Linked DNA regions of Homo sapiens: region 2 is linked to region 1. The links come from fine-mapping of genetic effects on gene expression. A gene starts in region 1. The other region holds a variant in brackets. All regions are shown on one strand. Distances are between the middles of the regions. Region 1 holds the start of CXCL12 (C-X-C motif chemokine ligand 12). Region 2 overlaps LOC124902544 (a long non-coding RNA gene).

Evidence for each region. PIP is the estimated chance that this variant, and not a neighbour inherited with it, causes the effect.
Region 2: its variant is the best candidate, but not a certain one, in a credible set for the expression of CXCL12 in pancreas (GTEx, PIP 0.53).

The regions. Positions count from the first base shown.
Region 1 is chr10:44,383,307-44,387,306 of GRCh38, forward strand. It overlaps CXCL12 (C-X-C motif chemokine ligand 12), which reads right to left and starts at 1,791. Exons shown (of 3, transcript NM_199168.4): 1 at 1,639-1,791. The coding sequence starts at 1,699. RefSeq lists enhancers at 1-40, 41-734, 735-1,426 and a silencer at 3,320-3,529.
Region 2 is chr10:44,338,589-44,343,101 of GRCh38, forward strand. The region is part of intron 1 of LOC124902544 (a long non-coding RNA gene); the gene reads right to left. Among named protein-coding and RNA genes, the nearest start is that of CXCL12, 44 kb to the right of the region's middle. RefSeq lists an enhancer at 1-180. The variant C/T (reference allele first, on the strand shown) is at 1,927.

The DNA.
Region 1 (4,000 bases):
GGCTGCCAATGGGGCAACTCTGAGGGCCATGTCACCCTTCCCAGGCCAGGAGGAGTCTGGGATGAACCCCACGTCTCTGTGCTTCCCCCAGGTCAGTTGCACCCATAACTCAAAGACCGAGGTTCCTCATTCCAATCCTCTCTCCAGCCCTCCGGGGAGGGGGCAGCACCATTTCCCAGAGCGGCGCACTGTGACACCTCCGCGCTCATCCCACCAATCAGTCAATAACTGCCCAAACCAGAGACCTTACAGGAACAGAAGAATATCCAGCAATAAAAACTAGAAACATGCCCCATGACTTGCGGGGGGGGGGGGGGGTCAGTGTGCAGACACAGCCTCAGGGACTTTTCATCAACGACGAACATTCCCAATTGCCTTCAGTCTGTGTCCTTAACACTTAGGCAGTCCGCCACGACCCCAGGCTGCCCAGCTTCTCCAGCCCGACTCAGCTGCGCTGGTCCTGCTCACACCAGCGCACAGTCCAAGCCAGCTAGGACGCCGGGGCCACGTCTGCACCAACCCAGCCAAGGGCTCGAGGCGCGCTGGGCCTGCACAGCCCGCGGCTGCAAGAGCACTCAGAGTGTCCTTCAACTCTTTGCAGGAAACTTCACAGCCAAGGAAGCTCAGCGGCCTGAGCCACAGGGTTTTGTTTTGTGTGTTCAGAGGCAACAGTTTATTTTGGTTTGCATCGGTGTCCTGTGACAGCGCAGCGAGTTTCTCTTCAGCGAAAGAAAAGAAAAAAGCCCTCTCCCAGTGAAACGGGACACCACGGTTCCCAGTGGCCCAGGGCCTTGGAGATTGAACTTTGCTGCAGCTCTCATTCTGGGGCAAAGCGCTTGGCCAGCTGGTGACAAAAGAGCCTGTCTGCAGGTGTGTTTGGGGAGCTGGGGAGGGGGCGTGTGAGGCTCGGAGGGTCCCTGGGCCTCTCTCAGGTGAACCCGAGAAGAGACAGGAAGACAGCGGCTGGACGCGCGCCCAGGTCCGCGTCGCTGCGGACCGCGGAGCTGTGCAGAAGCGCGGCCTGGCGGGTGGCACAAGCCCGACAGCTGCGCCGCGCAGCCCGCCCGCGCCTGGCCAAGAGCCCCGCGAGGGTGTGGGGAGAGGATCGGCTTCGCAGGGAGCGGAGGCTGCGCGGCTGCATCGGACCTCACAGCCTCAAGTCGCGGCATGAGGCGAACTTTGCAAAGCGCGCTCTCGCCATGCACCGCCCGACCTCCAGCACTGTGCGCAGCAGGACCTCGGAGCCCATTCGCCTGTGGAAACCGAGCCCGCAGCGGGAAGGCAGTGGGTGGAGGGTGGGCAGGCAGGGGTCTGGGGTCCGCGGCTCCCCACCCTCGCGCCTTCCCGCGCCAGTCCCGAACGCTCTCTTGGGGCGTTCCTGCCCAGTTGTCCCGGCTGACCTCGCTCTGCAGCCAGCTTGAGGTCAGGCGGTCGCTCTCTGCAGGTCACAAACCCTCGGCGCAAAAGTAGGGCTTTGAACGCGACACCGCACCAGAGCGCCCAGCTAAGCGAGCTGCCTCCACCCCCACTGTGTCGGGCGGCGCAAACTGCGGGCGCAGGCAGAGGAGCCGCGGCTCTGCGCCGGGCGGGAGCCGAAGCCCAGAGCCTCGCCAGGGCCTCCCCGCCGAGCGCACTTACCGTCGCTGAGGCAGAGCGCGGTCAGCACGAGGACCAGCACGACCACGACCTTGGCGTTCATGGCGCGGGCGGGCGGGCGGGCGGGCGGACGAGCGCGGGTCGGGGGCCGGACGCCGAGCGGGCAATGCGGCTGACGGAGAGTGAAAGTGCGGCGGTGGGAGGCGCGCGCCGGGCGCTTTAGAGGGGAGAGCCAGGCGGGGCGGGGCGGGGCGCGCGGTGAGGGGCGGGCCCGGAGCCGAGTGCTGGCCGTGGCCGGGGTCTCTGACGCGCGACTCCCTCGGCGGCACCCCCCACCCATCCCCTTCGCCCCTCCTCCGCTCCCTCTGTGCTCCCGAGGCGCAGTGCGCTCCGGCCTTTGACCTTCTCAGGCTCCGCTGGGCCCCGCACCGCTGGCCCGGTCTGCAGTGAGGTCCGCAGCCTGAGCGACGCCGGCTGGAGGGCCGCTTATTGTCCCTGTGACAGGGCCCCACTGGAGAGACTGAGGACCTTAGGCGTAAAGTGGGGCGCGCGTGGAAAGCTGCGGGACGGGGCCTTTCGATGGCGGGAACTGAATGAGAACCAATGAAAAGCAAACAAGTTAGTCCCGGGCGGAGGGCCTGCTGGCGGTGGCGGCCCAAGGCAGCCGAGGGGGTCCTGCTTTCTGTGCGTGGGGGCTCAAGCTCGCCACCTGCCCGGCTTGCGGCGCAGCCGCCGGCAGAGCTCGATCTGCGGGAATGAGACCCGTCTTTGCAGTCAGCGTGGCTCGGACTCCAAGCCCACGGCGCCACCAGCCGAGCCTCAGTTTCCTCGCCTGTACAAACAAAGCAGAAGGCGCCGGCGGCTCTCAGTAAAAGCGAATGTAGCCTTTGTACTTCCGACCTCTCAATGGTGAAATGAGCTAATCACAGGCCCACCCCGCGGAGTGGGACGGGAGATTCAATGAGACCCGCCCCACGCCGCGAAATTCTCTGCATCGTGTCTGACAAGCAGACAGTACTCAATAAATGGTAGCTGTAAGTAAGTCCTTTAAACCTAAGTACTTACTGCCTTACCCAAGAAAAGCTCCGTGCGACCCAAAGAGCTGAGAACTCCCCCACCCCGACCTCCGACTCCTAGGACAGTACTACTGGCGTCTGCCTTCTGGGTCCAGAAAACTCTTCCCACGGAGCCGTCCCTCGGCGGTGCTTAGCCCTCCGGATACCCCCGAGACATCCCAGATGGCCCCAGTCCGGTGGCGAAGGGAGGGTGCAGGTCGGCACCCAGGAGACGTGGGGGTGAGGAGAGCGCCCCTTTGGGCCTCGCTTTGTGACCGCAGGCTGCCCCAGCCACCTCTCTGTGTCCTTCCCAGCACAGCGTCCAGCGAAGTGGGGTCAGTCGCCGCGTCCATCCAGGGGCCTGCCCTGGGGACACGTCCCTGTCCCTGGGGAGTCCTGGCCGTCGGGGAGTGGGCGGTCAGCGGCTGCATTAGGCGGGAGCGGTCAACAGGAGGCTGCGAGGGCTCCGGAACTCCGCTGGTGGGAGTAGGTGTCTTCTGTGCATTTTTTTTCCAAAACCACTTTGGCCGTTAGATGGCTGTGGGCCGGCACTCCATCCATCCATCCATCCATCCATCCACCCACCCACCCACCCACCCACCCACCCTGGGCACTGGGCTTGGAGCCGGGAACCCCACTGACTTGGCCCTGCTCTTAAAGAACTGAAGGCAGTGAGGTCCAGTGAAGAAGGCAGCCGTCGGGCGTCCCCAGGCCTTTGCTGGGCTGGGCCGGGGAGCCTGGCCGCTCACCGGCCGCAGCGCTGGGGCTCCGGCGCCCTCTGGTGGCGGCGCCTCCCTCCCCGCTCCCAGAGCTCTGGCCAGCTCCATTCCTGCGCAGCTGATGAAACCCGGGAGGGCGAAGGGGTCCGCGGGAAATCTACACCCGGGTGGAGGGGCGCCCTGGAGCTCGGAGATCCGACCCTGCGGGAGCCGCGCGCAGCCTCGCTTGCCCTTAAATCTGGCCAAAGCAAACGCCATCGCCTCTCGCTTCTTCTTCTTCTTTTTTTCTTTGCCACAAAATCAGGTGGGCAGCTGGACCTAGGATCTGTCCCAGAAGCCTGAAAGGCCCGCGTGGGCTGAGTCGAGGGCGAACCAGGGATTCAGGCCTGGCCGCTGCCCCTCCCGCAGGCGCCCTGAGGCCCCAGAACAGAAGCTACTGTGGCACCCATGGGGCCATCCCTTCCGCTAGTCGTTCGTTAAATACTTACTGAGCACCCACTATGTGCTAGACCTGGGCTACATGTTTGAAGTAGTTTAGAAAAGGCACTAAACGTTTAGAAGCACATGGCGCTAAGCATAAGTAATTACGCATAAAATACTTAGAAGGCCATTAAATGCTAGGGGAAGATG
Region 2 (4,513 bases), 44 kb before region 1:
ATTGGAAGAGCATCTGGGAGCAGCACAGAAGCAGAGACAGGGAAATGTGCAACACTACAGTGTGGAATTGGGCCTAGAGACCAGAGAGAGTGGGAAACTTTGGGAGTGAACGGGCCAAGGGGAGGACATGGGATTGAGGGAGGGGAAGTGAGAAGCAGGAATCCTGGCACTTCCTGAGGGTGCACAGCCTGTACCATCCTCCAAATGCCTCCACATCTCTTTTCTCATTTCATCCTCACACAATTGTGTGACACAAGACAAGTCTTTCAATCCCATTTGCAAGTGAATTAAGAGCCCTAGAGATGTAATTTTCTAAGATTATAAAGTTAATGTTTTAAAAAATTTAGAGCTCAAACCCAATTTATGAGGTTCTAAGACCCATGTTCTTGTCCATCTCACAGGTAAACTGGCAATGAAGGAGAGAGAGACCCAGAGGAGTGGCCATGATAATTCACCACTATGTTTCCAGAGCATTGCACATAGTGGGTGCACAGCAAATATAGCTTGGATGAATGAATGAGTGAGTAATAATGATAATGATCATGAGGGTGATAATAAAAGTGGTTAATAAGTATTGAGTGTGAAGAATTATCTCATTTAATTTTCAACCATATGTGGTAGATCATATTTTTAAACCCATTTTGCAAAGGTGGTTTAGAAAATTCAGTGGTCCTTGAGTCTAGCCAAAAGGCCTTGCAATGAAGCATGAAGGGCTGAAAGAAAATGCTTGACCAAGCAATGCTTTCCCGGAGGCAAAATGCAGAGAGTTGCTTGATTGTGTAATAGGAAACTGAGCCTGTAACCCAACCCCTGCGTCCTGAGTTTATACCTAGATTCCTGGGCCATGTGGTTCAAATATTTAGAGAAATTCTAAGTAGCTGGCTGTACCTGTGAGGTCCACATGGGACGCTGTGAGGGAGAACTTGCTCTCCTCACCATCACCAAGTCCCAAGGCTGCAGGGCCCCAGTGCTGGGCCCTTCCTTCCTGCCTTCCTCCTCTCTTCCTGTGCTAGTTCAGCCCTGCATTACCCTTCCTTGGGGCAAAGGTTTGCTCTCTTACTTCAGTCTGCCCAGCACACCCCAGCCAGGGTGATCTGCTGAAGAGCAACTCAGATTATTGCACTCTCTCGCTCAAAACTGCTGGGTCCCCACCTCTCCTGCCCCCCATACCTAGGAGCAGACGGTCTCAAACTAAAGGCTGTATCAGAATCCCCTAGAGCACTTGTTAAAACATAGGTCTAGGGTGGGGCTAAGAATGTGCATTTCTTGCAAGTTCCCAGGTGATGCTGATGCTGCCGGTCCAGGGACCACTTGGAGAAGCATAGCTTTAAATGAAAGCAAAAGGCCTCGACCTGGCATTTAAGCACTTTTATACCAGGTGCCAGTCCACATCTCCTTCATTTTCTTCTTTTGTGAATCACTGTATGCACACTGGGCTGTTATTAGGGTTACCAGGTATGTTCCTGCCTCCACATGTGCAGTGTCTCTGCCTAAAATACCTGCTCCCCGTCCACCCTGCCACATTTTCCTGTCCCCCTCCAGCTTCTCTGCGCATCCTTATCTTACCCACTCTGCCAAGTCCACCTGCCATGGGAAGCCTTTTCTGACCTCTGTTAGTGGTACAAGCCCATTCCTTGCCTGCTCTTGGAATAGTTTATTAGTTCTTTCTCGTGCCTTTCAATCTCAAATTCTGTTCCTATGTATCTATGTAGTATATGCCCTGCTAAAATATTGGCTACAGAGACGCAGGGTGGCAGGGTGGTTGTATGCACAGGCTTCGGACCCTGGCTGAGCTGTTTTCATGTCTCACTTCTGCTGCTTGCTAGCTGTGTGCACCATCACGGTCAACTCAGGCTCCCAGGTTTTGGTTTCCTCATCTATATAGTGAGAGAAATTCATGCTGCCTGTGATGGTTTTAAGACACAT[C/T]TGCAAATTCTTTGATACTCCTTCCCCCAAATGAGGGCTGGCCTTTGAGACTCACTGGTAAAAAATGGAATGCCGTGGAAGTGACACTCTGTGTTTCTGAGGTGAAGTCATAAGAGGCTACACAGCTTCTGCTAGACCCTCTTGGGATGTTCTTGCTTGGAGCCAAGCAGCCACCTGGAGACCCCACACAGCCTTTCCAGCTGACAGTCCCAGCTGAGGTCCCAGCAGATGGCACATCCACAGTGAGTGGGTGAGCCTGGAGAGAACTTCTGCCCTCATTGCCCTCTGACCACAGCTGAGGGAGAGCCCAGACGAGCCTATTCTACCCCAGGACCACGAGGGTACATGATGAAATGACTGTTAGAGTGATTTGTTCTACAATAGATTCCTGAGACACTACTCTACATGCTTATTTCAAAGGTTAAATGAGACCATGAAAGAATTTATTGTACTACCTGGTGCACTGGGAGTAGAGGGAGGACCTTGTCGCCCATGTGTTCAGCCGCCCAACAACCTAATCCACAAAATGTTAGGTTTTGCCTCTACACCCTCTTCCAAGTTGCCTACTGTGTCATCCAGATATTCAGATCCCATGGCCTGTGCCACAGGTTTCTCCCAAAGCTCAGAGGCAGTAGTTCACCTTGATGACTTGGTCCTAAGGAGATGTAGGTGCAAATGGGCTCCTCCTAAGAGGATGTGTTCAGAGGCTGTGCAATGGTGCTGGGGCTCTTAGCACAGGTGTGCTCTTCCTCTCTGCTCTTCACCCAGCTCCCTAGACAATTACTGGGAACCCTTGCCCTCTGTATGGTCCTGGCTGTCAAAGGGCCACTGCAGTTTCATGGTGTGGAGGCTGAAAACAATGGTTCCACATTCCTTGACATTCCTCCCCTGGAGAGGTAGGCTATGTCCCCTCCCCCCGAATCTGGGCTCCACCAAAGAGCCTAGGGACGTGACCTGGACACTTCAGCCTTCATCTCCTCTAATAATCTCTCTTGAGACTCTCTCCTGGGCCCCTATCGATTACTGTTTCTTAAACTGAACTAATAGGGTGTGTGTGTGTGTGTGTGTGTGTGTGTGTGTGTGTGTGTGTGTACAGAGAGATCTACCTTAAGGAATCCACTCCCACAATTGTGGATACCAGCAAGTACAACATCTGCAAAACAGGCTGTCAGGCTGCAGATCTAGGAAACAGCTGGTGCTGCAACTTGAACCCAAACACAGTCGGGAGGCAGAATTCCCTCTTCCTCAGGGTACCTCAGTCTTTTTGCTATATGACCTTCAACTGACTGGGCGAGGCCCCCCACATGATAAAGCATGATTGACTTTACTCTGAGTATACTGATTTAAATGCTCATATCATCTAAAAATGCCATCACAGTGACAGCTAGGCTGGTGTTTGACCAAATATCTGCTATGGCCTACCCAAGGTGACACATAAAATATTCCATCACAGGCCCTCTCTTTTAGAATCCAGCGACCATGCTATGAGCCGCCTAACCAGGCAAAAAGGTGAGGAGGAGGAACTGTGGTCAGCACTCCAACAGGACCCAGCCTCCCAGCTGTCAAGCCCAGGCATTGAGTGACAGCACCTGCAGAAGGCCCTGCTCAGCCCCAGCCCTCAGCATCACGCCTGACCACTCAAGTCTTTCCAGCTGAGGCCTTAGAGACTGAGGAGGGGAGGCCACCCCCTTTCATCCTGTTCAGACTCATGACCCACTGAATTCACAAGCACAATGAAATGGGGGTGGGTTTATGGCACTACATGTTGGGATGGTTCAATACACAGTAATACATAACTGGAATACTAAATCTTTAGCAGAAAAATTCTCATGTAGCCCTCATATGTAGTCAAAGGAGAATTTTACAGGCATGGCTAAAAGCCACAGCTCCCCAAACAGTCCTCATTAAACCAAATTATATGACCTCTCGCTTCTTCCCATCTCATCTTTCTTTGTTTTTCTTTCCCAGAAATGAAGCCTTCTCTGAACCAGTCCCAAGAAGTCTCAACTTTAAAGCATTAACTCCCCCAATGAACTTGCTTTCATTTCATCTTCTCATATGTCATTGCATTCTCAACAAACCAGATCTATAGGATGGATCAGTCGAAGCTTACAAAGAAATCTAATTAGGTATGGAATATGAACTTTTTATTTGATAAATAACTTAGCTGGAGATACATTGAGAGTTACTCTATTAGAATAAAAGAAAGAAACGTCATAATTGCTGGAGTTCATGAGTGATTCTCTCTGTCCATGGGGCTGTCTTGTGAATGTTATGGGTTAGCCCTGGGATGGCCTGCAGCCAGCTGCCATGGAGGGCACTGAGAACCCACACACAAATAGTGAAGTTGCTTTGCAGGGAAACACATTTGTTGAGGAAGGAGAGGGAGAAACAGAGCTGTTTGTTTCCTACTCTGCACTGCCCAGACTGGTATAAAAGAGGAAGGCTCACTTTTGTTGAGGGGAGGGAGGATAGGGCAGGAAAACCTGGCTTTCTCGCCACATCCTGAATGCAGAAGAACTCGTGGTTCACCTGCGTCCTTCTCTGGGAACGAATATTTGGGAAATGAGAACCTTGGCACACCTCT